Linked DNA regions of Homo sapiens: all the other regions are linked to region 1. The links come from fine-mapping of genetic effects on gene expression. A gene starts in region 1. Each other region holds a variant in brackets. All regions are shown on one strand. Distances are between the middles of the regions.

What was found. PIP is the estimated chance that this variant, and not a neighbour inherited with it, causes the effect.
Region 2: its variant is the best candidate, but not a certain one, in a credible set for the expression of WDFY4 in whole blood (INTERVAL, PIP 0.70).
Region 3: its variant is the best candidate, but not a certain one, in a credible set for the expression of WDFY4 in lung (GTEx, PIP 0.57).
Region 4: its variant is the best candidate, but not a certain one, in a credible set for the expression of WDFY4 in whole blood (TOPMed, PIP 0.50).
Region 5: its variant is the best candidate, but not a certain one, in a credible set for the expression of WDFY4 in whole blood (INTERVAL, PIP 0.84).

What each region holds. Positions count from the first base shown.
Region 1 is chr10:48,682,454-48,688,509 of GRCh38, reverse strand. WDFY4 (WDFY family member 4) reads right to left here and starts at 3,637. Exons shown (of 62, transcript NM_001394531.1): 1 at 3,509-3,637. RefSeq lists enhancers at 2,847-3,387, 3,406-3,705, 4,636-4,715 and a silencer at 4,366-4,415.
Region 2 is chr10:48,777,403-48,783,458 of GRCh38, reverse strand. WDFY4 (WDFY family member 4) reads right to left here. Exons shown (of 62, transcript NM_001394531.1): 17 at 5,964-6,040; 18 at 4,627-4,848; 19 at 3,340-3,518. Among named protein-coding and RNA genes, the nearest start is that of WDFY4, 96 kb to the right of the region's middle. The variant C/T (reference allele first, on the strand shown) is at 2,229.
Region 3 is chr10:48,816,115-48,822,170 of GRCh38, reverse strand. It overlaps WDFY4 (WDFY family member 4), which reads right to left. Exons shown (of 62, transcript NM_001394531.1): 32 at 4,762-4,926; 33 at 1,734-1,937; 34 at 995-1,109. Among named protein-coding and RNA genes, the nearest start is that of LRRC18, 120 kb to the left of the region's middle. The variant T/C (reference allele first, on the strand shown) is at 2,882.
Region 4 is chr10:48,711,037-48,717,092 of GRCh38, reverse strand. All of the region lies in intron 2 of WDFY4 (WDFY family member 4), which reads right to left. Among named protein-coding and RNA genes, the nearest start is that of WDFY4, 29 kb to the right of the region's middle. The variant C/G (reference allele first, on the strand shown) is at 2,726.
Region 5 is chr10:48,719,489-48,725,284 of GRCh38, reverse strand. It overlaps WDFY4 (WDFY family member 4), which reads right to left. Exons shown (of 62, transcript NM_001394531.1): 3 at 5,160-5,274; 4 at 3,918-4,024; 5 at 1,718-1,852. Among named protein-coding and RNA genes, the nearest start is that of WDFY4, 38 kb to the right of the region's middle. The variant A/G (reference allele first, on the strand shown) is at 2,358.

The sequences.
Region 1 (6,056 bases):
GCACTACTGCTATAAAGAAAATAGTAACATTGTATTTAAATACTTTAGAGAAGACCTAAATAAGTGGAGAGACAGACCACGTTTATGAATTGGAAAAGTCATTTTCATAAAGATATCACTTCTTTCCAAATTATATTTCCAGTCAAATCTGAACATAGTTTTTTTTTCTGTTGAAAGCCAATTCTGAAATTTATATGAATGAGTAAAATACCAAGAATTCTCAAGACAGGATGGAAGAAGAAAAGAATGGGGAGGCTCTTTCCAGATACCGAAATTTATTATAAACCTGTGGTTAACAATGTTGTCTAGCATTGTCAAAGGGTTAGACAAATTGACAGAATAGAGAACCAGGAAAGACCCCCATGCACATGACAACTCAACTCACAACAGAGCTATCATGGATCAGTGACTAAAGAATGGCCTATTAGGCCGGGTGTGGTGGCTCATGCCTGTAATCCCAGCACTTTGGGAGGCCGAGGTGGGTGGATCACCTGAGGTCAGGAGTTCAAGACCAGCCTGACCAACACAGTGAAACCCCATCCCTACTAAAAAACCCAAAAATTAGACAGATGTGGTGGCGCACGCCAGTAGTCCCAGCTACTGGAGAGGCTGAGGCAGAGGAATCGCTTGAACCTGGGAGGTGGAGGTTGCAGTGAGCTGAGATCGCACCACCGCACTCCAGCCTGGGTGACAGAACAAGAATCTGTCTCAAAAAAAAAAAAAAAAAATTAGCCAGGTGTGGTGGCATGTACCTGTAATCTCAGCTACTAGGGAGGCTGAGGCAGGATAATTGCTTGAACCTGGGAGGTGGAGGTTGCAGTGAGCCAAGATCATGCCATTGCACTCCAGCCTGGGTGACAGAGCAAGACTCCATCTCAAAAAAAAAAAAAAAAAAAAAGAATGGCCTATTAAATAAATGGTGCCAAGACTCTTGGTTATCCATATGGGAAAAGCAGAATAAAATAAAGTTTCTTCCCACCTCACGCCATACACAAAAGCCATTTCCAGGCAGACTAGAGACTTCAGTGTAAAAAGTAATATTATAACATTTTTTGAAAATAATATGAGAATAATTTTACAACCTTATAGTGGAGAATTTCTTAGATAACACATAACAAGTATAAATCATAAAGCGACAGGTGGATAAACTTATTTGAAACTAAGAAATTCAGTCATTAATAAAAACCACAGGAATATAAGGAGACAAGGCACCAACAAATGAAAAATATTTGTTATATATATAAATGACAAAAAGTAGTACCCAGAATATGTATTGAATTATGGCAAATCAATAGGATAAAAGACAGGTAACCCGATGAGAAATGGCCAAAAAATGTGAACAGGAAAAGGGACCCCAAATGGCCAATAAACATATGAAAAAGATGTCCAACCTTAGTAATTTGGTCAATGCAAATTAAAAACATGCTAAGATAGCTTTTCATTTCTACCAGATTGGCAGAAATACAGTACCAGACAATATCAAATGCTGATGAAGAAGTGGAGCAACAGAAACTTTGGTGCATTGCTGAGGGGTGGGTAAAATGAGGCAAAAACTTTGGAAAACAACGTGGTGACATCCAGTAAGGCTGACGATATGTACAACCTATGACCCACCAATTCTATTTCTAGAGTATATACCCAAGATAAATTCTTGCACACATGCCCCAAGATGCATGTACAAAAATAGTTCTAGCGGCACTGCTTATAATAGAAAAAAAAATAAACTCTTGAAATACCTAAAATGCCATCAACAGCATCTCAGATAAATATATTGAGGTACACTCATCTAATAGAATACTGTACTGCAGAAAACTTTAATTATCTACAGGTACATGCAACAATATGAAGAAATTTCAGAAACAAACTTTTGAACCAATTAGGCAAATTTTAAAAGAATATTTAATTCCATGTTTACAGAGTTCAACAACTTGCAATCATACATATATAGCGATTTAAATATGGGATGTAAAATTAGAAAAAGAAGCAAGGGAACAATAAACCCAAAATTCTGGACTGTTGCTGCTTCTGAAGAGGGAAGGTGAAAGATGGGCATGAAGAGGACCTCAGAGATGATGCTGATCTTTAAAAAAATCTAAGGTGTCAGCACACAGGGTTTATGCTGTTTTTATTACTTCTATCTTATTATGGTCTTTCTAAATTTTCTTTTCTTTCCTTCTTTTTTTTTTTTTTTTTTGGAGATGGAGTTTCATCGTGTTGTCCAGACTGGTCTTGAACTCCTGACCTCAGGTGATCTGCCCCTCTCAGCCTCCCAAAGTGCTGAGATTACAGGCGTGAACCACTGCGCCTGGCCGAAATTTTCTTTTCTTTCAACACAGAAAATCTTTCCAAGTTCATGAAAGAATAGCCCATGTGCTCAGGATGGACAGACAGGAAGGGCCTCCCTGACCTGACCCTGTTCCCTACCTCTCTGGCCAGAACCCCAGGCATGCCCCTTACCCGGCTCTGCCACACCAACCTCCACGAGGTCTCCTCCTCCAGACCCTTATCAAGAACACTTCTCAGAAACCCACAGGACTCGGCCTCCCTCACAGGTCCCCTCTCAGAAGACTAGAGCCATCCCCACCCTCCCAAGACCCCCACCCTACCTGCTATTCTCCCACCTGCTGAGCACCGTAGACCCCTGTCCGCTTTGACCAGAGCCTGGCAGGGCGTGGTTTCTCAATACCTATTTGTTAAATAACTAAATGAATGACTATACATAAACTCATATTAAAATTAGTGTGCTCCATGGAAAGGGTAATGCATAGAGCCCTTAGTTATCAAACCAGCCCCCCCACACTTTAGATGAGTTGGGACAAAGGATCGGTTTAGTGTTCTAGAAGTTTCATTTCAGGGGAAAAGAAGAATCAGTCCTTACTGAGCAGGTGGCCCTGCTTAGGCAGAAAATGCAGGCGTTTCAATGGTTTGCTGTAATAATTCAGATGAGGGAAGTGAGCCCAGGGAGGCACCTACTTACCAGAACCCAGTGGAGTAATGACAGGGCCGGGATAGACCAGCTCCCTCTGAGGCCCGTTGGAAATGGCCCTCCAACTCTGCACTCCTCAGAGGCCTATGAGGGAGCTTGGAGGGCGAGCCTCACTGTCCTGTCGGCCTGCTCTCTCCGCCCCCTCGACAACCAGGAAAGCCCGTGTCAGCCCTTCCCAGGGTTCCCTTCATAGCAGGACCCCGAGAAAGGACTTGACCTACCGTCAGAGGTCGAGGAGTGCTGCTGGAGCCCAGCCTGACTCCCAAACTTCAGCAGTGACACACACTCAGGCAGACCCAGGCCCTGGAGTGGCCCTGACCACATGGGCCCCCCACGCCACACACACTTCCTGCTCCCCAGCTCACCTCCTCTCCCACATTCACAAACCCAAACCAGGCACTGGGTCACATGTGCCCCATAGTCAGCCTCCCAGGAGGCAGCCAGTAGGCCCCACGCTGACAGGCGGCGCCCATATGCCCACCTCTAGGCTGGCCTGGCTGGGCCAAGAGCAAGGTGGCCTACCTGGAGGGGTGGCCGTCAGCGCCTGTAGACATCAGAAGGCATGGGCCCCCTATCCCCAGCTGCAGCCCCTCAGGCTCGGGGGAAGAGGACCCGGCCCCACATCGTCAGTCCTCAGCGCCGTTTCACTCTGAATCACTGGAGCTGGGTCTCTGCTCATTTCCTGGAGAAAGCAGAAGTGGAGAGCCGGCAGATGCCTGACTCTGCCCACTCTCCAGCCGACCACGGAGCTGCTGGAGTTCTGGCGGGTGACTTGGGTTCTGCAGCAAGGCCCCTTGGGGCTGGCTGTGCAGCCTCCGTGGTCAAGCGGTGCTGGTTGGGGCCAAGGACAAAATGGAAAGTACAGCCCAGCCCTAGAAGAGTAGGTCTGGATTCTGTGTCCCCTCTTCACTAGCCGTGTGACCACTGGTGCACACCTCTCCTCTCTGGGCCTCTGGCAAAATGAGAACAATGATGGTGTTAGGTGAATCTAATCAGAGGTGTGTTTAAGTGCACCCCTGGACATGGCATGGGTTGGGCAGCCCTCACCCCACCAAGCTCAGAGTTGCCCACTTGGATTTCTTCCTCCCCCATCCTCAGATAGAACTTGAACCACCAATGAGGGGAGTCCTCCTGCGGCCAACACTGAGGCAAGGATGAGAGGACATCTAAAACCATAGAATGGAAGTCTCTGAAACTCAGACTCCAAATTCTCATTCCTCTGAGTATATAAACTAGGCTGAATTATCCATGTCACCTATCCATAACGTCATCTCCACAGTACAAACAAGCATGTCCATTCACACACAATCCTGCTTGTGCTCTGTAAAAGGAGAATTTTGCCAAAGAGCAAGGGCACTTGTTAGCGCTAATGCCTGATCCTTGATCCTCAGTGCAGCTCATCGCTTGTCTCTAGCTCACAAAACCAGTGGACCATGCATGACTGACTGAGAGGCAGCAACAACATCACTTGTTATGACATGGAGTAAAGCTCCAAGATTGGTTTAAAGAGGAAAATAACATTTGTCACAAAACCTCAACCTCCACCAGTGCAAACTTGTCAGTAGACAGCAGCCAAAATAGGAGATCTATCCAGCTGCACTCCAGTCTGGACAGCAAGAGCGAAGCTCCGTCTCAAAAAAAAAAAAAAGAAAAAAAAGAAAAGAAAAGAGAAATTGAAAGGATACATGCAGTGCCAGCCAAGGGAAAGAGAAAACCTTAGAGAATTTGCAGTGAAGTGTTTGTTGTATATGATGAAAACCCCTCGTCATTGTCACCAATGAAATCATAAATAAAATCTACAAGAAGATATTGCCTGAAATCAGAGGCCTATGGTAAGAGCGGATTAGACAGAGGAACTTCCACAGAGGCAGGAAGGGTGGCCAGCATGGGACAGGCCAGGACCCCATGCCTGTGAATGCCCAGAGGAAGCGCGGAGAGTCTGTCATAGTGGGATCTCGCAAAGTCTGCTGGAGGGCCCACCTGCACCCAGGTCTCCTACCTTCTACCCACCCCAGCACCTTGCCGGGTAGCCAGCAGCAGGCAGGTAAAGAGCACTAAATTCAGAGCTAGAAACTCAAGGTTGAAATTCTCACTATCTTAACTGAGATAATTGACATCTTATTTGCAGAATGAATGAATGCCTTGTTAGAAGGAACAAATCAAATAATATTTGCAAGAGAGGTTTTTTTTTTTTGAGACGGAGTCTCGCTGTCGCCCAGGCTGGAGTGCAGTGACGCGATCTCGGCTCACTGCAGGCTCCGCCCCCCGGGGTTCACGCCATTCTCCTGCCTCAGCCTCCTGAGTAGCTGGGACTACAGGCGCCCACCACCTCGCCTGGCTAATTTTTTGTATTTTTAGTAGAGACGGGGTTTCACCGTGTTAGACAGGATGGTCTCGATCTCCCGACCTCGTGATCCGCCCATCTCGGCCTCCCAGAGTGCTGGGATTACAGGCGTAAGCCAGCGCACCCGGCCAAGAGAGTTTTTAAATACTGAAAAGGGCTGTGCAAATGCAAGCTATTATTAGTGAGAGAGTTGCCAAAGCTAAGACACTGAAGCAGCCAGGGCAACTATGAACTGCTAATGTAAATGTGTATTTTTGTTAAAGGGCAATGTAAGATTCTCTGATTTTTAAACAATTGCCCCAAAATGGCAGTTTTACTTCTGCACCCAGTTATGGTGGTGTAACTGGTATAGGACATACCCTCCCATTGAAAGCAACTATAGAATAGTTCAAATACACAAGATAATTGTTTTCAGGCATTGAATAGCAAGACTGTGATCCTTGAGATAAGGAAAACACACAAGGTGAGCCCCACAATTGCCCTGGAGTTTTTTCTAGTGATGCTTTTTCTGCTATGATGCAGGCAGGTGGGGCCCCAGAGACAGTAGTCTCCCTGAACTGAAAAGGTTTAAGTCAGAGTTCAAAGCTGCTGAAGGCTCTGGTATGTTCAGGGCAGGTTCCTGAGGAGAGTGTGCCTTGTGGGAACTCATTGTGTGTGCCCTTGGCCAAGGATTCCTATGTGTGCACAGGGTGAGACTCCAAGAGACCCAGCAGAGGTCAACTGACC
Region 2 (6,056 bases), 95 kb before region 1:
TATGTACAATTGGCCCTGCATATCTGGGGGTTCCATATCCTTGGATTCAATCAACTTTGGCTCAAAAATATTCAGGAAAAAGAACAATAAAAAATAGTGCTATAACAATAAAAAATACAAATAAAAAAATACAGTATGACAACTATTTATGTAGCATTCACATTGTATTAGGTATTATAAATCATCTAGAGCTTAGTTAAGCATGCAGGAGGGTATGCATCTATTATTTGCAAATACTACACCATTTTATTTAAGGGACTTGAGTATCCATGCAGTTTGGTATCCAGGAAGGGTCCTGGAGCCAATCCCCTGAGGAAACTGAGGGATGACTGTATTTTTCTAAATGAGAGTTTACAGAATTTCAGAAATATTCTTTTTCACTCTACCAATTAAGTGAGATTTTCAAATAAAAACAAACCAATTGTTCAGCCATCAAGGCTTGCCAGGAGTATGATTTTCTGTGCTCTCTTATCTCTCTGTTCTCGCAGGCACAGAGTCCTCCTCTCTCTCCCACACTGAAGCACCACTCACCCCTCCAACCCACCTTGCTCCTGTCTTCCAAATTCCCAGTGTATGCACACTGCCCCATTCAGGTTGCCTAATAAATGTCTAATGTCTCATATCGTTCCCAAATCATTTTGCCCAATTCAAACTATTAAAATGCTCCATATCTTTACAAATTTATGTAAGTTTCCTTTGGCAATAAAAACAAAGGCTCAGCATTTTGAGAAGGGCTGTTAAACTAGTCAAATTAAGCTGAAGTTCTCACATCTTACTCTTGTCCAACAGATGTTTGCATCAAAACACAGGCCTTTATGTTTATCTTGGTTGAGTTTCACTTGCTGGTCCTGACCCAACTTGTTGAGATTATTTTGGAAAGCGCACTCTGTCAGTCTTGGCTTTGGCCACTCCATATAGCAACACACCACTCCTGACCTCCCTGTTGATGGCCCTAGGCTTAGCAGGTCCCGCAGGGAGGATGTTAATGCCTGTACCACTTCACCCAACCACACTAGCAGCCAGTCATGTTCCTCCTGTGGCTGCACATTCAATTCAGTTCATCAAGTGTTTATTCCATGCTTACTGTGTGTCAGCCCCTGCGCCAAGTTCAAGGAAGGTACAAACATCAATAAGACATGCCTCAAGGTATTTGAAGTATTTCACAAAATATCAACATATTCTGTGAAAGAAGACAAGAACAAGTGAACTCAGTAATTGAGCCTAAACAGATAAAAACAAAGATATTGCAACCACAAAAGACACCACACATCCCATCCCAACTAATGTGAGGGACTTCTGCTTCCTCTCTAATGATAAGTCCAGCCCTGTTCCGTGTCTCTACCTTCTGGATAAAAGTTATTAACATTCACAGTCACCAAATTGCACCTCTTTCCAGCAGCACCCAATTCAGAACAGACAGACCTCCACTTCTTTAAACCCTTTTAAAAATCACCTAAAATGAATCTAGTTTCTGTAACAAGCCACTCCTAACTCCTTACTACCCCATGGGATAGGAAATCTCTTGCTATAGTCAGTTTAAATCTAATTTTTATTTTATACTATATGTATGTTCCTGGAGGTCTTTGGCTTATAAGCATAAATAATTCTTAGAACCTAAAACAATTCTTAGCACCTTATACTATATGTATGTTCCTGGAGGTCTTTAGCTTATAGGCATAAACAATTCTTAGCACCTAAAATATTAGCTAACACATAACAGGTGCTCAATAAATATTTAATGAGGAAAAGAAGAAAGAGAGAAAGGGAAGGAGGGAGGACTGATATTGTTAATAATTGCAGAAAAGGTTAACTATGTTTTGAAGGACCTGTTCTTTCAATGCCCCTGTCAAAATCTTTCTGGTCAGCCAGGCGCAGTGGCTCACACCTGTTATCCCAGCACTTTGGGAGGGCAAGGCAGGTGGATCGCCTGAGGTCAGGAGTTTCAGACCAGCCTGGCCAGCCTGGTGAAACCCCGTCTCTACTAAAAATACAAAAATTAGTGGGCATGGTGGTGGGCGCTTGTAATCCCACCTAGTCAGGAGGTTGAGAAAGGAGAATCGCTTGAATCCTGGAGGCAGTGGTTGCGGAGAGCTGAGATCGCACCATTGCACTCCAGCCTGGGCGACAAGAGCGAAATCCTATCTCAAAAAAACATATATATATATACACACACACACACATATATATATATACACACACACACATATATATATACACACACACACACA[C/T]ATATATATATATTTGGTCATCACTGCCTTTTTTTGATAACAGAACTTTACCAGCAGATGGTATCAAATTCACCTATATGTGTCCCACAGAATTTGGGACTAAGAATTTGTTCTCATCTGATGACTCTTAACCTGGAACAACTTTGACCCCCAGGGTATATTTGGAAATGTCTGGAGATGTTACTGGTGGTCACAACTGGGCAAGGTCAGGGGAGGAACACTATGGCATTTAGGGGGAATCCAGAAACCCTGTGTATGTAAGGTTCTCCATTCTGGCTGCATATTAGAATCACCTAGAAAATTTTACAAACATTAGTAAGTTGTCAAATTACCTGACCCAGAGAGATTCTGATGTAATTATTCTGGGTGCAGCCTGTGCAAGAGAACTTTAAAAAGCCTTTGCAGGTGATTTTAAAATGCAGCCAGCTTGGGATGCTCTCCCTGGAACTTGTGTGAAAATCCAGCCCTACCTGCCTTCTATGGTCCTCCGGGCCCTCTCTTCTCTGACAATGGCTGCTGGCGCCTGCCAGCTCCACCTTTTCCCAGCTTTCTCTTATACCTGGGGTGTCTCTAAATGACAGCCATGAGATGCTTCCTCCAGCTATACATTTGCATTCTATTACCTTCCTCATGGTTCTTGCTCTAAATCTGACGACACGTGTTGGTGTCTGCCCACTCTAGTGTCCTGCTCCTCCGTGTGGTGCAAAGATGAGCTGCGTTGGCCTCACCTGGGAGCTTCTTGGAAAAGTCATACCTTAGGCCCTGCCCAGACCTCCCTGAGGAGTTTGCCCCTCAAAATGAGAAGCTTTGCTTTGTTCATTCTGGAGTTTTCTATTTTCATGAACATGACTATTCTTAGAGACCTGGATGCATGTCTTGCCTTCTGCCCTGGTAGCGTGACCTTCAATGCATTTTCTAAAGATGTCCTTTTCATGTCTGAACTCAGCCAAGTTTCCTGAACAGTAAGGCAGATTTCATTAGATGCCAACCCTACCAGTAATAAACAAACAAACAAACAACAACAAAAACATAGAATGAAACCGAGGCCACTTCAGGGTAGTAGCAGGAGGTATGGTTGTGGGGCAAGTGCAGCTTGGAGGAGCCATCTCACCTTGGCAGAGCCAATGACCTGTCCATCCAGACAGGTGGAAACTGTACAATGCCTTTTCATTTCCTTAGTGACAACCACAGCCAAGTGATGCCACTGACCACAAGCCAGGAGCTGGCCACACCTGACCTGAAGCTGGCATCCTGCAGAAGGCTCGGAGTCATCCTCAGGTTCCATGACATCTGGAAGACAGCATGAACACTGAGTCTCACGTGTGGTGCTACACTGCAGGAACCCAGGAGAATGGGGAGGGCATAGGCGGACGTCAACCACTGGGCCTTGTACCATGGAGCCCTAGATCCTCCTCTCATGAAAAATGACAACAGCAGCAGCAATAGCAGCAGTCATTCTTTGAGCTCTTCCTTTGTGCCAGTTTTAAGCATGTTACAAATATCAACTCATGTCATGTTCACAGCCCTGTGAGGTAGGCGCTCATACATGCCCAATTTACCATCCTGAGGCACAGAGAGGTTGGGTGACTTGCCCAAGGTCATACAGCCAGGATTCAAACCCAGAAGCCAGGCTTCAGGTCTATCCCAAGGTAGACTACCTCCACAGAGACTCCATTGTAGGCCGAGTCCCAGAGAGTTGGATAGGCAGTTGTGCTGTGTACAAGGGTGTCAGCCGCTTCCACTGTTTCATAGGGCCTCCCAATGTTTTTCCCTATGAAACAGTGACACTCTCAGGACACAGGAGAAGAACAAGTGGACAGAATCCACTGGACTTGACCATCTCAGGCAAATGAGCCTGGAGAACAACGCTGGGCTCCAAAGGGCAGAGCCAGGGCTGGCCTCTAGCACTGCCAAAGGAGGGGTGGCCCTGGGCGCCATGCCAAGCATGGGCCAGCCTTCTGGGTTTGGGGTTGAGCATATGTGGGAGCGCCTATATGTCTGTAGCTGCTTCGGCTCCAGCTAAATTGTGTGTGTTCTTCACAAACCTCACTCAGGAGAGGATGCAGCCTGTGTCCCAGCAAGGCAAAGCCCTGGGTCCCATTGTGACTGTTCTGCCAGGGCGAAGTTTCTGAAAAGCCACTGAGCATCATCTCTGAAGCTGTGCCAAGGGCTGGGGCCTCATCTGCCTGACACTTACAAGCCTAGAGCCCAGGCCACAGTGAACCACAACAAATATTGTAGACCTTTCACCAGGTATGGAACCCAAGGGAGCAATTTCAAAGGATGAGGAGAAACAGAAGGTCACCAGGTTTCTAACCACACCTGTGTTGAGAGCTTCTGACTTAGCCCCATTTCCCCCACATGTGGATGAAACTGGCTTTGGATCCCAGCACCTTACCCAGAGGCTGAAACTCCTTCTCTTCTGTAGAAACAACCAAGGAGAGGTCGTCTGGGCAGAGGCTGACGGAGAAGCAAACAAAGGGTTGCTCAGTCCTGGCCAGGTGGCGCACCAACGTCAGGAAGCGCAGCGGGTGGCCCTCAGTGGCAGCTCCATGCCGGCTGATCAGGAACCAGCAGGAGAAGGTCAGACCTCCAGGAGGAGGGAACGGTCTGGTGGCACCTGGGTGGGAACACAGGCATGCCCTCAGGCTTTGTTCTGCCCTGCTGAGCATGCATGTTCAGATTCACTATGGTGCTGATTTAGCCCAGGTGCAGCACCTACTGGGTGTCTTGCCTAATCACCAGTTGTCTCCTCCCCATTATGGCATGCTGCCTTGCCAAGGGAGCAGAGAAGATCTCGATCTCCCTGAGGTCCGTCACACGTGGGCTCCTGGTCAGCTGATCTATAGCCAGGCAGTGTGCTCTGTGGGGCAGAGGACCTTGGCCTAGCTCAGCTGAACCTTGGATAGGAAAGGGCACCAATCTAGGAATGCCATGTGCCCTCCCATCACATAACAGGGTTGGCGATATAGACAGGTCCATTGTCCTCACAGAACAGGCAGGATCAGCTGCTGTGTCCTCAGACTTGGTGCCAACTCACATGGAAAAACGTCATGAAGGCAATGGCTCCCCAGCACCCATGATCCCATAGAAACCCCAAACCCAATTCTCCTAACAGAGCGTGTGGCTCAGGCAGCATCAGGCACTTGCACTGTCCCACCCAGCGTGTTTTCAGCTAAGTGCAGTGCTGTGCATAGAAGCCACTTGCCAAAGATTGGTCTATTCTCAACGGCCATCAGCCCAACTCATATTTCTCTCTAGAGAGAGATCTAAGGCAGGTAATGTGTCCATCTCAGCCTACATCAGTCACCAGCGAAATGAGCCAATTTTTCAATGTCAATTGAGTCCCTAGCTATAGGCTGGACCCTTGGGATGCACAATGAACAGAACATCTTGCTCTAAAAGAGGAGCAAAGTTGAAGAACAACTCATCTGCAGATACTCAGGACCAAGGCAAGACTCATGTTTGCTTTTCTTTTTTTGAAACTGGGTCTTACACTGTAGCCCAGGTTGGAGTGCAGTGGTTCAATCATAGTTCACTGCAGCCTGGAACTCCTGGCCTCAAACAATCCTCCTGTCTTGGCCTCCCAAATTGCAGTATTACAGGTGTGAGCCACCATGCCCAGCACAGCTCACACTTTATTGAAACACCAAGTAAAAATCTGCAATCAAGGCTATCTGAAGACTCATACTTTGGAAGGGATGGAGAGCTAAACCATCTGGGAAAAACACCTACCTGTCCCAATTCCTCCAGAGACAGAGTACTCAGTGCTGGTTCCCATAACTGTGGACAGGGTTGGAATAAACAAACAGCTGGAAATAGAAAATT
Region 3 (6,056 bases), 130 kb before region 1:
CCAAGTGGTGAGAAAGCAAGCAAGGTGAAGCATTTCTTCCTGTGGCTTTTTGGAGGAGGATGGGGGAGAATGTGCTGCTTGAGACAAATGAGCAGGCATCATGATGACCAGGGGCCCTGCTGCTACACTAGGCAGAGGATAAAGCCATACTGTCATTATCCATCTATGCTCACCAACACAGCAGGTACTGTGCTCAGCCATGTGTGTGATGATCTCAACTAACCCCTAGCACAACCCTGTGAGTTCACCACGACTGTCGTCCTTACTCACAGGTCCAGGCACCTGACTAGGGTCGCATGACTGTCCAGTGGCAGAGCCAAGTCCAGAACTGGGATTGCCAAACCCACACTTCACCACCCTGCTACTCTCCTGCATTCCAGTCTCTCCATGAGAAGGATCATGAAGTCAGGGCTTCTGAGTAGGAGGCAAGGAGAAGTCCAGAGTAGGACTCATGTTCCTAGGGATTCCTGTGGCTTGGGAACCACAGAAAAGGCTTTTGTTTAGGCTTGTTGAAAAGGTACAGCTGCCCTGGAACCAAGTTTTTTGAATGAACCTTCAATTTTAAGCTCTGAAGGGGCATGGCAGCATCTTCATCCAGGTTCATTGTTTAAGAAACATCAGCTGTGCACCTATCCCGTACCCAGGCAGAATGCTGAGCACGGAAGGTTAAATTGTGGTATCTTGGTTTCCCTTATGGGAAGAGGTTGCATTTCTACTGAGGCTACAGGAGAGCCGATTTTTGCTTAGAGGCAAAAGGGCTTTCTGTCTGTAAGTGGCACAGCATGACAAGGGTGTCATGGAAAGTAGCAAGCACCCCTCCACTGGGCCCCAAGGCAGGAGCCAGGGAGTTCTTGTTGATGATGCCTGGAGGGACTGACGCCAGGTGGAGGCAGCATCCCACAGCTAGGGTCAGTTCCTGGCCAGCATGCTGGTTTCCTCTCCACTGTCAGCAGCCTCATGTCATGAATGGAGGGGACCGAGTTGCCCCACTCACCTCTGAACATCGCTGCATCACCTCCACTTGTCATGTGGAATAGTTCCATAGCAGAAAGCAGGACCTCGGACTGGAAGTCTCGCTTCTGTTGGCTGGTGGCGTGGTCTGGAGAAGCCTGGAAGCACAGCCCGGGACTGAGACAGCAACCACAGGGCCATCGTGTGCACCCAGTGCCCACCGCCTCCCTAGCCTGGCTGGGACACTTATGCCGCATCTGCCAGCAGTGTGGGCTGCTCACAATTTTCCCTTCTCTGGGGGCCCACCCTCTGTGACTGAGCTGCCTCATCCAGGAAGCAACGCCCACTTCCGAGGGTAAGGAGGCAAGTCAGGGGAGCCCACAGCCCACGGCCACCTGTCAGGTGCCACAGGTGGGGCCGGCCCTGGGAGGCAGAGAGCACCCCAGAACCCCCCTTGGGCCAGGCTCCAGCTGGGACCACCTCTGGGCTAGCTTCACCTCCTGCCCCTCTGCTTCCCTCCCTGCTTCTCCTGAGAACACCGCCTCCAACCCACTGGCCAATAACTCACTTCCACAAAACTCCCACCTCAGGCTCTGCTTCTAGGGACTCTGTGCTCACTCCTCTATCACCTGTTGCTTTTTTGGGGCCCATGGTTCACAGATTCCCCTTCACTCGCTGTGGCCCCCAGGCCCTCTGTCTCCCTGGGTGCATCCTGCCCTTGCAGTGCCGGTATGCCGGCAGCCTCCACAGCACATGGCCCAATGTCACCTTTTCCAACCCACCTCCAGGAGCACCTCCAGGGGCAGCCACTGCTTGGGGCTGGAGGCTCCAAGCAGGAGCTCCCTCAAGAGGAGCTGCGTGAACTCCCTCAGCTTCCTCCGGGCGGGATGTGCCTTGGTGGGAGCCTGGAGACCCTCCACTGTGCTGTCGCCTTCAGCTGCGGCCTCAGGACTGCTGGTGTTCCGGGTGGACTCAGCCCCAACCCCCTCAAAGACAAGAGAACCCCAACATGAGTGGCCTGCCCTGCCTCAAGCTCTTTCCCACCAACCTGTGCCATGTACATGGGCGGATTATTGTCATGCCCAGTGACATGTACGGAAATTGAGGCTCCGCACAGGAAAGCAACTTGCCCAGGATCCAGCTGCTCATAAAGTGGCCTGCTACTGTTTGAGAATATGAGATGCCAAGTGTTGTGCAAAGAAGCTAAACCACAGAGTCAGAGAGGCCTGCAGTGTTCATGATGAACTCCAGAATGTGCCAGGAGCAAGCTGCTTCACATCTCCAAGCCACAGCTCCCCATCGGTTAAATAGAGACAATAAAAACCATCTGACACCGGATCTGGGAGAATGACATGAGAGAATAACGAACGTGGCAATGCCCAGCCCCTGGTAGACAGTCAGAGAGAGTCGGTGCCCATCTTGTGATGGGGACCCCACCTCTACCTCCTGCCCAGTCTCTGCTGATGCCCACAGACAGGCTCCTCAGGCAAGAACGGTGGAGAAGTGGGACTCCAAAGAGTTCTTTCCTCTAATTTCTGAAGCACTTTGGCATCCACTATTTTGTTTTATATTTATAAAATGTTGGGAGATCAACGAGACAGGGGTCATTACCCCAGATACGTCCAGGAGGACACAGAGATGCTGGAGGCTGAATGACTCACCCAAGGACACGCGGCCAGGGACTCCTGACTCCCAGCCCGTGAACTTCTCCTGCGCATTCATCTGTTAGCACCTCCCTTTGCTCATTCATAAAATTAATGCGGCCGTTCTTAATTAAGCCATAAAATGAATTTAATGGCACCTAGGGAGGTAGTGACTGCATTAATTAGCTCCGTGCGGCCTTGATTGGAAAGATGCCATATAAATTCACAGCAAATCCAAGCCTTTGGCCACCAGCCTTCTGCATGAAGAGGGTCTGGCATGTTTTCTA[T/C]ACAACAAAGGCCTTGGCAGAGCTGACTTGGAGCGCTGAAAAAGGCAAGGATGGCTGGGAGGTACACCTTGGAATTAGAGCCAGGAGCCCCAAGACAAAAGCCCGACCTCGCCCGCGATCAGCTGGGGATGTGACTCTGGGCCAGACCCTCCCCTGGGCAGGAACTGCTGACCATGGGGAGCAGGAGCCCTGGGTCAGAGTGTGCACCTGGGCTGCTGGCGGGGGCACTCGGCTGGAGCCCCGACTCAGCAGATGGCGAGCCTGGCCCTTGGGCATGGGGGCTGAGCTGGGCATCTGGGTAGAGAATGTTAGGCCGCTGGACCCCTGCAGAAAACCTGCCCAGGGAAGTGTCGAGGGGGAGCCTGTAGGCTCGCCCTTGATCTCTCCCTGGCCAGGCTGCCTGCGCCTCTGGCTGTGGGTCCTATCCCACCTCTCTCCTGCAAACAACGCTGCATTCCTTCACTCTTGTTTGCTTTTTTATCTTACTTTTTTAGTAAGTTACTTGATATGAATTCATCAAACTATTTCAAAACTATGTTATCTTTTTGTGAAACTTCTGGTCTTTATATTTAGTCTTTTTATTAAAACTACTTTTAAAGTTTATTTGGCCATTTAATTTTATTTTAAACTGACTGTAATGAAAAGGACAAGGCTTTGGGGTAAGAGTGAGATTTAAACTTTGGCTCCGTCTCTTGTTAATCGCATGAAGTTCAGTACATTTCATTCTTGCAATCAATCTGGGAGATGGGTTTTGTGACCCTCAGTGAGCCTGGAGGAAACTGGTGAGTGCCACTTTGCCTCTCTGAATCTCAGCTTCCCCTCTCAGACACCACCTTCATCAGGTGGCAATTCAGGTTTTCTAAAGCACCAGTTTCAGGAGATGGAGGCTGCCGCCATGGGTATGCTTCTGGAAAAGATTAGCTAAGAGAGCATGTTGCTCATTCATTTGGGCACTTAGCAAATGTTTATGGAGCAACCACTCCAGGCCTGGCATCACACTTGGCATGGATTATAAACCCCCCTATGTAGCATTGCTCACCTTTCAAATATGCTCCTTTAGCTACAGTTGGCAACTTGCAGGAAGACACGGTTAGCTCACTTGCCCTCACTGGGTCTCCACTTCCTAATCCACCAGAGTGGGGGTGGTTGTGTGAATTTCTGCCCTTCCTTCTTCCATACCTGACCTTCTTCTTTAGTCCTCACCTCCTTCTCGCTTCCCAGCTCCCAGGAGGTCTTAGCCTACCTGAGTCCCACACGGCCCTGACCCAGCCAAGCTTTGACCTGCTGGGCCTAGCTGGAGGCCTCAAACTCACATGTCTTCCCATAGCCCCTTCTCTAACCCCCAGAGCATAAGACCCAAGACCTCATCCTTAAATCAGGCTCTGCCCTCCCCTTGGCTTGTCTGGCTCTAAGCTGGGCCTCTGCAAACCCACTGCCTAGAAGGGCACACAAGTCATGGCCCAGGGGCCTGCAAGTTGGATGAGGGTTCCCAAGAGCAAAAGTTTTTGCAGGATGCACTCCCAGGACTGCCCTCCCCCATGTGGTGCACAGCAGCAGACTTCCTGGAATGGGAGTCACTGTCTCCCCTTGTCAGTGCCTGTGTATGCCACAGACAATGGACTTTATCTGCCATTAGACTTCTCATTACTGAGATTCTTAACAGCTCAAAAAAATTATTGAATCTCAGAGCTGAAAATGACCTCAAGGTGTATCTCAGCCAAAAAAGGATGGTTATCCAAGCTGCTTATTCAATGTTCCGCTCAAGTTGCCTTAAAATGTATTTTAATTTTAGGGGGGAGGGGAGGGATTTTGCCCTTTGCCCTTGAAGGATGATGATGCTCACAACTGCTCTCTCTGGGTGGGACAGCAGCATGTCCTACCTTTTGGGCTCCCAGGGGGAAGGCGGCTATGGCCAAGGTCTGGAGGAACTCCGGGGCTCGCCACGCTGGGTCCTGGGGGTAGGTGCGGTGGACGAGGCTGAGGAACTGCAGCACGCTGGCCGGGAAGGTCTGTGCCCAGGCACCATCCTCAGAACCTGCCAGGGGCTGAGGCACACTTGGTGAGAGGTAGTGCAGGGCAGCATGATGGGCGCTGCCTCCCTAACCAGAGGAGCTGAGGTCTAGGGAGAAGATTCCTTCCTGAGACTTTCAACAAGATACATTATTTAAGACTGCAGATTAGCACCAGACACTAGTGTCCAATTGAGGAAGGGTTTAATATGTGCAGACGTTGTAAGGGCTTCATACATATGCCTCTTCTCACCCCACAACAACCCTCTGAAGTAGGTTCTATGTTTACCCCTAGCCTTTTTCTCTTATCTTTTAAGTTTCTGCCTTTTATTTTTGATACTTGTCTACTGTATTGGGTAGATGATGCTTTCCTGACACAGATCTTGATTGTACCAAACTCACTGAGTAACTTTGTTATTGTTGTATATACATACATGTTAGATCTTAGAAGTCTGAGTCTTGTTTTTCACCAAGTCTAAAATTCACATCTTTAATATAGAAATTTAACCTTTTTATGTTTGCTGTTATGACATACATGTTTGGTCTTATATTTTTACTTCTCTCAGCATATTACATATTTTCTTTGTTTTAAATGCTTGCATGTGATTCCTTTTGTTTGCTTTATTTTGAATAACATTAATTGATTAAACAGGTAACAGATTCCTTATGCTCCATACAGAAAATATACATCTTTTCAGGTACCCCTAAATTAATTGCTCATTAGGCCTACAATAAAACCATGAATAAATTTCTTGAAGATGAAAAATATACAGATCACATGATCTGAGCAGGGCCAAAACATAACTAGAAATAGAGAACAAAAGTTTAAAAACCAAAAATCTTCACCACATGGACATTAGAAAATGTGAATCAAAGAGAGCTTTAACACTACAGTCACAGAAATTCCAGAACATAACAAAAAATGAAGACGCCAAAATCAAAATCTTAGAAATTGACAGAAATAAAATCAGGAGACTGATAAATGTACCCAAGAGCTGGTTATTTATATAAATCCACAAGCCTTCAACTCCTAAGTCACAAGAGAGTCCAAGAAGGAGAAAGCAGGACACAAACTGAGAATACGAAGGGAGAAACAATCACACAGAAAATGACATGAGTTAAAGGAGACCATTTGTGCAAATTAAATGAATGGGAAATTATTTTAA
Region 4 (6,056 bases), 29 kb before region 1:
CTTTATAGAAATTGAGGCTTAGCCGGAGTTTAAGAGAAATCAGTTAAGTGGCAGAGTCAAGGTTTGAATTACTTCACACATGCGTGCACATACCCAAAGTAGCATTCGCACATCTACGAAACTTATAGCTGCCACCTGCAAGCCAACTGCCACTCAGACATGTTAATCCCTGGAGAGAAAAAGTCTGTCCTTTTGCCTTGGAATTTCTGTGGCGAGATGATTTCCCTCCCTAGAAATGAGAACGCTGCTACGATGTATTTCTAACAAATCCCTGCAACTCCTCCCTGCACTGACAAACCCCTCAAAGACCAATTTGCAGGCATTTGACTCAGAAGCATCTATATCGTCTCTGGAGCAGTGGGACTCCAGGAGGCACTCCACAATAAAGCAAATTGGGCCACTGTGAGCTGAACAGTAATTGTACTCTGAGCCAGATCTCCCAAGGCCCAGACTCCTTCCTGGGACCTCGATGGGCACTTCTGGAAGCTGCGTTAACTCTTTCAGGCCACCGGGGTGCTGTTTGATGCACAGAGCCAATCATTTACTAAATGGTACCATGGGGACCCCAAAGAGTTAAGGCAGCTTCCAAAAGGCCCTAATTTTTTCCCAAACTGGGACTTACATGCTGGGAGAATATTGCTCAATATTTTAAAAAACTTTTATTTGCTAACATTATCTAAGCTGCACCATCGTGCCTCATGGCTGTCCCTTCACATGGAAGAAAGAGAAAGAAAATGATGCTCTGGTCTCCAAAGGAAAATAAAGAATGGCTAAGCTCTAGGGGAGATGAGAGGAAAAACCCAGCTTTTGAATGACAAAGAGAACATGGTTGGTATTCCAGCACGAACAAAATGTCATTATTACTCCATTACTGCAGAGTTTGGCAGGTTTGTCTTTAAGTGAGCTCAAAACATTTCTGAGACTTTGCATGAAGTTTCCCTGCGAGTGTGATGCAGTAGACCCTCTCCTCTGTTGAAAAAAAAATGGCGCATCAAAACTTTGCTAAAAAGTGTTATTTCCCGAAGATGGGAATAAACCATGTTGCAGGTCCCACTCCAAGATGGGGTAGAGTCAGGAGTGGACAAAGAGGAGGGCTTACCCTTACTGTCCCCTCAGGACACCACATCTAAAAATAATTGTTGGTGGCCGGGCGCGGTGGCTCACACCTGTAAACCCAGCACTTTGGGAGGCCGAGGCAGGTGGATCACAAGGTCAGGAGACTGAGACCATCCTGGCTAACATGGTGAAACCCCGTCTCTACTAAAAATACAAAAAAAAAAAAAAGAAAAGAAAAGAAAAATTAGCCAGGAGTGGTGGCCGGCGCCTGTAGTCCCAGCTACTCAGGAGGCTGAGGCAGGAGAATGGCATGAATCTGGGAGGCGGAGCTTGCAGTGAGCCGAGATCGGGCCACTGCACTCCACCTGGGAGACAGAGTGAGACTCCCTCTCAAAAAATAAAAAAAATAAAAAAATAATTCTTGGTCATCTTTGCTATTGTATTTAATGGTGTTTATCTTTCTTCAACTATCAGTTAGATCCACACTTGGTTTTTACAAGAATGATCAATCATACTCAACATCACAAACTCTGCACCATTGGCTTAGTAGTCAGCCTAGGAATGTGCACATATGCACACACACAAACACCAAAATACACTCACCTCTAAATACAACTAAGTTAGTGTTCATTTCAATCCCTTCATACTAGGAAATGGATGTATTCCTTCTTATGTTACCCACTTTTCCAGTTACCTGTTGTGCATGACAAAACACCCCTAAATTCAGTGGCTTAAAATAATAGCAATCATTTATTTTGCTCATGGATCTGCAATGTGGGCAGGGCTCAGCAGGGACACCTTTTCTGTGCTCCATTCTGCTAGGGCAGCTAATGGGAGCTAAGAGATCCACTTCCAAGATTGTGGGTGTGCTCACAGGGCTGACAAGATGGTGCTGGCAGTCAGCAGCAAGTGCAGCCTCAAGGTCAGGGCCTTGGATCCTCTCCACACAGGTGTTCACTCAGAACTACTTGGGCTTCCTTACAACATGGCAGCTAGACTCTAGGAGTGAGTATGCCAAGTGAGAGGCAGAAGAAGCTGTGAGCCTCTTGAGGCCTATGCTTGGAAATGTCTCTTCTGCCTTGTCCCATTAGCCCAGTTGATACAAATCCATCTAGATTCAAGGGGAAGGGATAAAGATCCCACCTCTTGAAGGGAGGAGTGTGAGCCCATTCACAGCACCTCTAATCTACCACATCCACATATTTCCCTTTTCTCCAATGTGGTCCCACCTCCCAAGTTGTCTATCTCAGACACTGATAGATTTTGCATTAATTGCTGAGGATTCTCTATTTTACTTTCTGCTTTCTCTCAAAGTCCACATTCTATGAATAAACCTCATTGGCTACTTCTGTAGCTCTAGATTTCCCCATTTCTATTATTACAGGATATCTCTGTGCAAAATGAGGACCTCAAGTGATTTTCTTCCCCCAAAACCAGCACCTTCCCATGATTGCTAGAAGAACACCTTCTTCCCTTGGTGTGAGACCATACGATGGGAAAGGTTCTGAAAAGACCAAACCCCAAGGCTCTTGGCAGGAAAAGAACAACAGCCTATTGAGTCTTTCTTAAAAACACTACTCTGCACACCACAGAAGTCATTGGCTCTGTGTTGCTTCCATGTGATGAAATAAAACTTCCTCCTTATCTGCAACATCCTACAGTCAGCAAT[C/G]TAAACATCCTATGTGTGGGGGAGACATTCTTTTTGAGCCCAAGGAAAAGGCAAGGTCTTAGCCAGGCAAAGCCATTGTCCAGTGAGTCATGAAATAAGGAAAGACAAACCAGACCTGCTTTATCCTAGAAACCCCAGCACTGAGCAAGGACATCCAGTGGTTAATAATGCAGACCTACAGCAGACTGCCCTGGTGACATTCTGCTACCAGCTGACAATTGGGTGACTTTGGCCAAGTTATGCAACATCCCTAAGCCTCTCTTTCCTCATTTATAAAGCTGGGATAAAAATACTACCTACATCACAGCGTTATTGTGAGGACATGTAAACACTGAACAGAATGTCTGGCTAGCTAGTTAGAACCTGTAGGATATTACCTAGCTATCATCAGTGAAAGCAACTGCTCACCTGGGCATCAGGGTGCCTGAGTTTAAGTCTTGGCTCTGCCCCTTGCTAGTATTGGAACCTAGGGCATCATTTCATCTCTTAGTCTCATTTCTAATATACAGGTTGCTTAGCACAGGTCAAAGAAAGAATAGGGTGATATTAAAAAGAAATAAAAGAAAAGGGGTAGAGGCTAGGTTGGAAGGATCTGACCCTAGATCAGGACTGAAACATCCTTCACCTTGCCCTGGCTAAGAACTCTTTGACCTAACAAGAGGAGTGAGGAACCCTAGGTGAGGAGGGAGCCTGCTGTTCTGGATGAGAATCCCATTTCTCACTCCTCCCCTCAGGGAAGCTCCCTTTTTGGGTTCCAGTTTGTTGAGATCCCATTAGGCTCTTCCTTATTACCTAGACAATAGCCAAAATGTTGACTGGGTTAGCACCCCTGCAGCCACTCTTCAACTCAAGAGGCAGTGGGGCTGGGATTCACTGTACCACAAACCAAGCCCACCTTTGTACTTGCCTAGCAGTTACTGCAGATTCAAGTATAAACAAAGACAGGGATAGAGGAAAGTTCAGTGCTCGTGTTTGAAGGAGTCAGATATGGAAGAAAACCAAACAGGCTAACGGGAAGTTCTTTTCTGGGAAGAAGATGCCAAAGAAGTAGCTCTGAGGGAGTCTGATGCACAAGACAATGCCCATTGTCAAATCTCAAGACTCACAAGTTTGAAGCTACCAGGTGACAGCAACTTAGGAGAGGCACACACAGCTGTCAACCTGATTCACCCAGCCCCAACTACAACATAGATCACCGCTTCCATGCAGAGTCTGACCGACAAAGAGGCTGGGGGTCAGTCAGACAAGACCCCACACCCTAGGGACATGGCCTTTCCGAGCAGAAGTGACAATTCAAAATCCCTTGTGTGCATTGCTTTGGAACAAAGAATATTCCAAATAATCTTAATTAATTTTCTTTGGGCCAAAATGAAGAGTCAGGTATAGAGTTGAGCTCCATCACACATGGGAGTTCAGGACTCTTTGTTTGTACTCAGGAGTCTCAGAGCCCAGGCAGAGTATGATTTCCATGACAACCAATACATGTATAAGGCTTTGATGTTAACAGCCACATTCCGGGAGAAGTGGCATAACATTTTAGGTTCTGTTATTTCCAAGGGGGAACTTCATGGAAAACCTTAAAGAACACTGCTTTGTGGTTATAAAATTCAGAACAGAGTGGTTACAAGCTTATCTTCTTACACAAGGGCCTATATTCCAGTAAATGTTCTCATGCTTCATCTCAGGTTAGATTTGATCTGCACTACACCTGAGAAAAATCTCCCATCTTCCCCACCTTTCTTTCCACCACCAACTATTAATTAAGAAGGCTGAGCACTCTGGCTCTGGCAGGGTTTTATTAGTCCGTCAGAATGTAATAGAAACCATGTTTCATAGGCATGTAGGACTTAATAAAATAATACAGATATTAAGAAAATTATGAGAAGCCTATAATATTCTGCCTCTGCAGGGTTTGCCAGAGGTGGGTTCCAGGGATCCAGAGTAGCAGATTGTGTCAGCAGTTTAGGGAATCCTGGCGACAGGAATCTCAAAGGCTTCAGTCCATGTGCAGTAAGTACACTGGAGGCTGGTGGAAAAGTAATGGGAATAATGTCTACTTTCCATGAGCTGTGGACTTTATAATCATTGTCTTGTCTTACCCTCATGGTTTCTCATTGAAATGCTATTAATTCTACTTTATGGATAACTGAGGTTCAGCAATAGTTGGTAACTTGCTCAACAGCACACAACTAATAAATAAGTGATGCAGCCAGGACTTGAGCCTTGATCTGTTTGACTAGAAAGCCCACATGTTCAACAACAGGGTCATTATGCCTCCAATTATAGGGACAGGGTGTGGAAAACAAAGACCAGTATCAAGGTTCACTTATAATAGTAACACTTAAATATGGAGTCACAAGCTCACATGCCTGTACGGTGACATAACATTCATTAGTAATATGGGTTGGGTGAAAGATGTTGGAGTGAGCTCCGAGGTTAGCTGGGGAACCCCATAACCCCTCCCATACAACCGTCAGTATTAGATCTACCAAAATTTTCAAGATAAATTAGAAATCTGATTTTCATATGAAAACTTTCCATTTTGAAAAAAAATGGCCACTAGTTCATTCTGAACCCCTGCAGGCCAAATGAAATACACAGTGTGCTATTCGATGCCGTCTGCTCTGGGCCACACTCACCATGAGGGTGGTGTGTCACCTCTGTCTTCTTTACTCCTATATTTCAGGCCTTAGAGCAGAGTATAGGAGCTTAATAAATATTGGTGCAACAAACAAATGAACTCTCAAATAAACATCAGGGAGGTGAAGAAGAATCAAGTCCTGGCTCTTGGGTGCAGTCCTTTCATCAGAGCCCGGGCTGCCCATGCAGGTGGGAAAAGTGTCACCGAGAACTAGCAGCTCAGTAATGGCTGAACTCATCCCCATTGCCAGTGACTTGCACTGGGGGCTGGGGACTGCTCACATTGTCCCTTCCATAAGGCAAAGTTGATCTGGGAACTGGGGTAAGACTGTCGCACCTCCCAGAATCTGGGGCTGTCAGGGCAGGCAGGGCTAGGGCTGAGAATCTTTAGCTATCTTTACTAATCTAGCCCTAGTTATGCAGTCTGTGAAATGAGATGAATGGGACTACAAGTCCAAAACATGGAGGAAAATGATGAATTAATGGACAGTGAGTTACTTGGCAACTGTTTAATGCTAAGTATGGAATGCATCCTATAAACGTGTTCCCAACAAGATTCTAAGTAATCTTTGGAAACCCTTAAATATTTCTGATGAATAAGTTAGAGGAAATATATTCACAAAGGCATTTAGCAGTGAAAACATGCCAAAGCCTCCATCTGCCATAGTCTACTTTCAAACGTGAAAAGTAG
Region 5 (5,796 bases), 37 kb before region 1:
CCCCTGGGCTCTTGGGGGTCCAACAGGACCTGCTGCCAGTGTGACAAATATCACAAGCTACTTCCATGGGAAGACATTTTCCCCTTCTAGTCTGATACAGAGAGAAGCTGGGCTTCATGGACCACAGCTGTAGGTCCCATTTCCCTGCCTCCCTTGCAGGTAGCTGTGGCCATGTGACCAAGGTCTCACCTGTCCCTGGGCTTGCATTGCCATTTCTCTGCTCCTCTCCACTTCCTCCACCCCACCCGGCCACACTACCTCCTCAGACCCTGACAACCCTCAGCTCTCTGGTTAAATGCCATGCCCTCAGAATAGACTCCACTGATTTCTCTCATACAAATAAAAGCCTGTCACCATCATTGCCCAGTATACCTTTGGCTTTACCTACATAGCACTTAAAAAATTGCTAACTACTGCACTCCAGCCTGGGCAACAGAGAAAAGCCCCATCTCTATTTTTTTAATTGCTAACAACACACTTATTCCTGGATTGTTTTCCCCTTGTTTGACTTCTTCATCCTTCTGTCACCTCTCAAAGTGAAGCCCTATGCTTGCTGCAGCAACCATCTGTCTGCCATAGAGCTGCGCACAGTAGGGGCTCTGTATATTTTTGTGAAATGAAGTAACAGAAACCCTTGAGCAATGCAGGAATGGTCTATTCCCTGTGGCACACATTCTGTCCACATACCCAGAAGACCTCGAAGACAGACCCTGCACTACTTCCCTTCAGGGCACCTAAAAGCCACACAGTAAACATTTGTGAAAGTGCCTGGTGCAGCGTCCTGGCCTCCAATTAGAATATGATTTACATACAAGCAGATGACACCTACATTTCCACAAATGCAGCTCAGAGGGTAACCCACTGTTAATGGAACCTGCCAGAACTCATGCACTACCCTCTGGAAATGAGGAATGGGCTTGGGAATTCGTCTAATGTGGATGCCAATGTGGACATGTGTGTACCATGGACAGCTGCATTTGGGAATTCACTGAACAGTCACAGGCACCTGCTCTGTGTGAGACACTGCAGACACTGGACACACAGCGACGGGCCCCACAGTCCTCTGTATCCTCCCGGGCCACACGATCCTCCATACCGTCCCCTGCAAGCTCAGGGAGCAGGAAGGGTTATCTAGAGAGCTCAGAGTCTCAGAAGGTGAGAAAGCAGAAACTGCCCGGAAGTGGGCAGGGGAAGGAGGTGAGAAGTTAGTCAGTCAAAGAGAAGAGGAAAGATGGGGAATGACAGAAGGAAATTGCATTTGATGCTTAGAGGCCTGAGATGTCTTCTGAGAGGAAGGAAGAGGCACCGAGAACATGTAAACTCAAGTTTACTCAAGGGTGCCAATCCCAGCCCCACCCAAGACTTCTATGACCCCAGACCCCATGCTCACTCACCATGCCTCAGTTTGTATGGACCCAGGATGACAACACTATTTACATCCTGTGATGGCAGACAGCAATCCTGGAGGTGACCCATGTGAGGCCATGGCACAGGGGTGGGTACAAAGCTTATATTTAGAAAATTTTGGCTACTATTTTGCTAGTGGGGCAGACTGTGCAGTGGTGGGGAGGGGAGGGGGAGGTTAGACCCTCTGGGAGAACAGAGGAGTTCAGGAACCAGGGCTGAGAAAGACAAAAGCATCTACGGGAAGCATTGGAGAGTCTGTCCCCGAAGTGAGGTTTTGACCCAGGGAATTGGAGGCCCTCCTTGAACTCACCTGCACGAACATCTTTTGAACTTGAAGATCACTCTCAAGAAGCTCATCTTTGTCCAGAGGAAAGACAAAGAAGAGGTAAAGGCACTGTAGGAGCAGGGCTGGAAGCCCAGACTCAGCAACCCTGCCCAGCGTCTCCTGCAAGAGAAGAGCACACGTGACCCCAGGCAGCAAGGCAGCAGAAGCAGGTCAGCCCAGACCCAGGATCAGGCCCCTGCAGCCATTTCAGTGAGGCCATGGGACAGTCCCTCTGGGCTCCAGTCCTCAAGTGTGAAATGCTGACAACCAGAGGATGCACCTAGGGTGGCTGTGAAGATTAAGTTTATATAAAGTGCTTACTATGTGCTCTATAGCTCCTTTATAAGATTCATAGATGGAAGGAAGGAAGGGAGGGAGAGAGGGAGGGAGAGAGGGAGGGAGGGAGGGTGGAAAGGAGGGAAAAGGGGAGGGACTGTAGAAATTAGAACATAAGGGCTTCCTAACAAATCATACTGTGTGACTGTGGTCCAGGGCCTCATGATTAGGAAGGGAAAGCAGTCCAGAGGTGAGGCTGATAATATGTGTGTGAGCAACAATGGTGAGGACCTGATCAGGCCCCTCCCCAACCTCTCATCTAGATCCCAGACAGATCTCGTCAAGGTCC[A/G]AAGAGTGCAATAGGTGATGACTGACAATCAGACAGCCAGCAACTCAACTAAACAGCTCAGGGCTGCCAGACAGAGGCCAAGAGGACAGGAACTCTGCAGAGATGGAGACCAGCCTGCCAGGAGCTTCCTGGGGTCTTTCTTCCTGGGGCTTTGCCTGCAGCTCCACCAGGATTACTGCACCTGCACCCTCTGTGTGTGCGTGTGTGCGCACGCACGTGTGTGTGTGTGCATGATGCATGTGTGCATGTGTGTGTGCACGTGTGTGTGTGCATGCACACATGTGAACACCTTTGGGGTCAACCTATGGAATGCTGTCCATGCAACTTCCCATTCCACTGGTTAACCTGACAGACATGTTGGGGAAGTCAGAGAAAGAGAAGGACGAATGTACAGTCTGGGCCAGGATCAGGACTAGATGCAGGCTGCTGGTCCTAGCCTTGGCCAGAAAGGTTTACAGTGCAATGTACTGTCTTCTATGTATTTGACTCCTTGTTAACCTTGACCTCCTCAGGGCAGCTCTCCCTGTCCTTCCCCCACCTCACCCCCGATGCACCATGCACAGGCAGTGAAAAACAAGCCCTTAGGTTAAAGTGTCACCACTTAGACTGCAGAGAGTCCTTCCCCCAGGGGCACATGTGATGCGCCCTCGTGCTGTGCTTCAGGTCGCTGTGCCTGACAGTGATGCAGGCAGTTCACCTGAAGAAGTGTCAGGAGGTCCTCCCTTCAGTTAACTTCCCAGGTCATGTACCACCCCCTGGCCCCAGACAAGGGCTGCGTGATGTGCTCCTATCACCCTTCCAAGCACGGCTGCAAATGCCCATCTCATGTCTGGGTTCATCTAGTGAAGCAGCTTTGGAACTGGCTAGCAGGTAGAAGCTGGAAGAATTTGGAGAAGTTACACTGAGGGCAGCAGCCACCCAGGTTCCCTGCTGTGTTCCTGGCATGCGGTGGGTATGGGTGGGAAGGGAAGAAAGAGGAGAGCCCTCATCTCTGGGCGAGGGCGAGACAGGTACCTACAGGGAATGTCGTTCAGGCTGACTCTAACAGGAAGAAATAAAGAACAGTGGCTCAGAGCATGGGTTCTAGAATCAGATAGACTGCAGGTGCACAGCGTAGGTAAGCCTGCGTTCTCATCACTCACTGGCATCACCAAGATCTGACTCATAGGGTCCTTGGGAGGATTAACTGACGATGTCTGGGACACACCCAGCCTTGCCCCACAGGTAGGAAGTAGTCAATAAACATCAGCCGTTATCAATCCTACACTAACCCCAGAAGAGAGGCATTATTATCCCCAATCCTAAAATTAGAAATGCAACCAAGGGGCAGAAAGGTAAAGCAATCTGGCCACAGTTACACACAGCTTGTCAACTGGGAAGGTGGGAATTTCAGACTCTGAAGTCCATGTTCTACACCAGAAGGGGAGGAGGGAGGAGAAATAATAAACCTGTTTTATGAAACGAATGACCCTCTTGGGATATGCCACCACCCTGTGCTGGACCTCCCTCTGCACCTAGATGAGCAGTGCCCAGGGCAGAGGCTGATGGTCTGAAACTTACCGAGTCTGTCCCCGTGAGCACGTACACTGACTTCAGGAGCAAGTAGCCATCCTGATCCACGTCCCCCTTCCACCACAGCAACTGTCCAGCTGCCAACCGAGCTTGCTCTGGAAGAAAGTGTCACCAGCAGGGCATACAGCGACCTGCCCACTCAGCTTCCCCTCCATCCAGGGCCCCCTCTTCCCAGGAGATGTGCCTGAGCATCTGTAGAGGACTTTGGCATCTTGCCTACACATCCCCAAGGCCACCTGCATCTCTACCAAACGCTCCACACCCTGCCAGACTAATCTCCTTGGAAGACAGCGTTTTTTGTGCCACCGTCCCCGTTTAGCAACCATCAGTGGTTCCTGATTGCCAATGAGTAAGAACAAGCTAATCGGCTATCAGACTCCCCACAATCCAGAATCTCCCCCTACTTCCTGGATCACACAGTCTCTTATGCTGCAAGAATTCCTGAAATCTACACCATGCTGAGCAATTTCTTCCCCTCAGAATTTCCTCCTGACCCTCGGCCCTCAGCCACTGTGAAATTCTGCCCTGCCTCCAGGGACCAGCGCACATGAGGGGAAGAATGCAAGTCAGGAGGCCCCACAAGAGATGCACTTTGGCCTCTGTGTCTTTTCAGGACCAAGAGCTCCACTGAACACACAGGTGCATCTTCAATCCTAGCACTTCCTCCCAGAGACCGTGGTCCCGTGTGTTCTGTGTGTGTGTCTGTGTTGCAGTGTGTCTGTGTGTGTGTGCCTATGTGTATATCTGTGTGTAGTGTGTTCTGGGTGTGTCTGCATGTGTAGAGTGTGTGTCTGTGTGTAGTTTCTGTGAGTAGTCTCTGTATGTGTCTGTGTGTAGTGTGTATGTCTGTGTGTGTAGTGTATGTGTATGTGTCTCTGTATCTCTGTGTGTCTATGTGTATCTGTGTATAATGTCTGTGTGTAGTGTCTGTGTGTGTATAGCATCTGTGTGTAGTGTGTCTATGTGTGTCCGTGTATAATGTATTATGTGCAGTGTGTGTGTTTGTCTATGTCTGTGTCCCAGGAACAGCAGGGCTCCCCGACCCCTCTTCCCTCCTCCTGCATTTCCCTTGGTCCCTAAGGCACTCAGTGGCAGAGTGGGGCCTACTTCTCTTTGGCAGGCAACACTGTAGCTCCACGCGAAAGCAGAGGGGGGCCTGAGAGGCCTGGGAGGGCATGCAGGGCTGCACTGCTCTCTGTAGAGGGTCTGCCAGCACCTCCATGCTCTTACCCGCAGGCTTCCCCACAAGGGCCTTCTGGAGTTGCTGGGCAAGCTGGTCAGACACGTCTTCAGCCAGCCTTTGGAGACTGGGAAAGCAGATGATCCCCACGGAGTGTTCCCAGGCCTGAAGCAACAGATGGGACTTGGTCAGAGATAGCAATGCCACAAGCAGGGCATGAGCACTGCCTGCCATGCCACCCTTCACCAGCCCAAGCTGACAGCTCGACTTCCTTTCCCAGGTGCATGCAAAAGGCCACCACGTCACCCACCCTCACAGCCTCAACCATCATCCCTATACCAACGCCTCCAGATTCTCTAACTGCTCAGACATCCACCTGAACACGAGCCCCTAAGATGTCAAACACACAGAGCCCAGTCCACCGCCTTCCCCACAGCCTGCTGCATCTGGCGTCGGTGGATGGCCCTGCCAGGTGCCTGCTGCCCCCATAGGAGCACCAGGAGTGCCTCTCCAGGTTTCTCCCTTCCTCAGCCCTCACCCAGCCCCTCCTGTTTCTCCTCATTTACCATTTCAAATCCTGTACAGATATCCCAGTTTTAGTCATTTGATTATTTCCTTTAGATAAATTCCAAAAAGTGGGATTGCAAGTGAAAGAGTGTGCTTTTATTTTCTAGCACTTTAGTACAT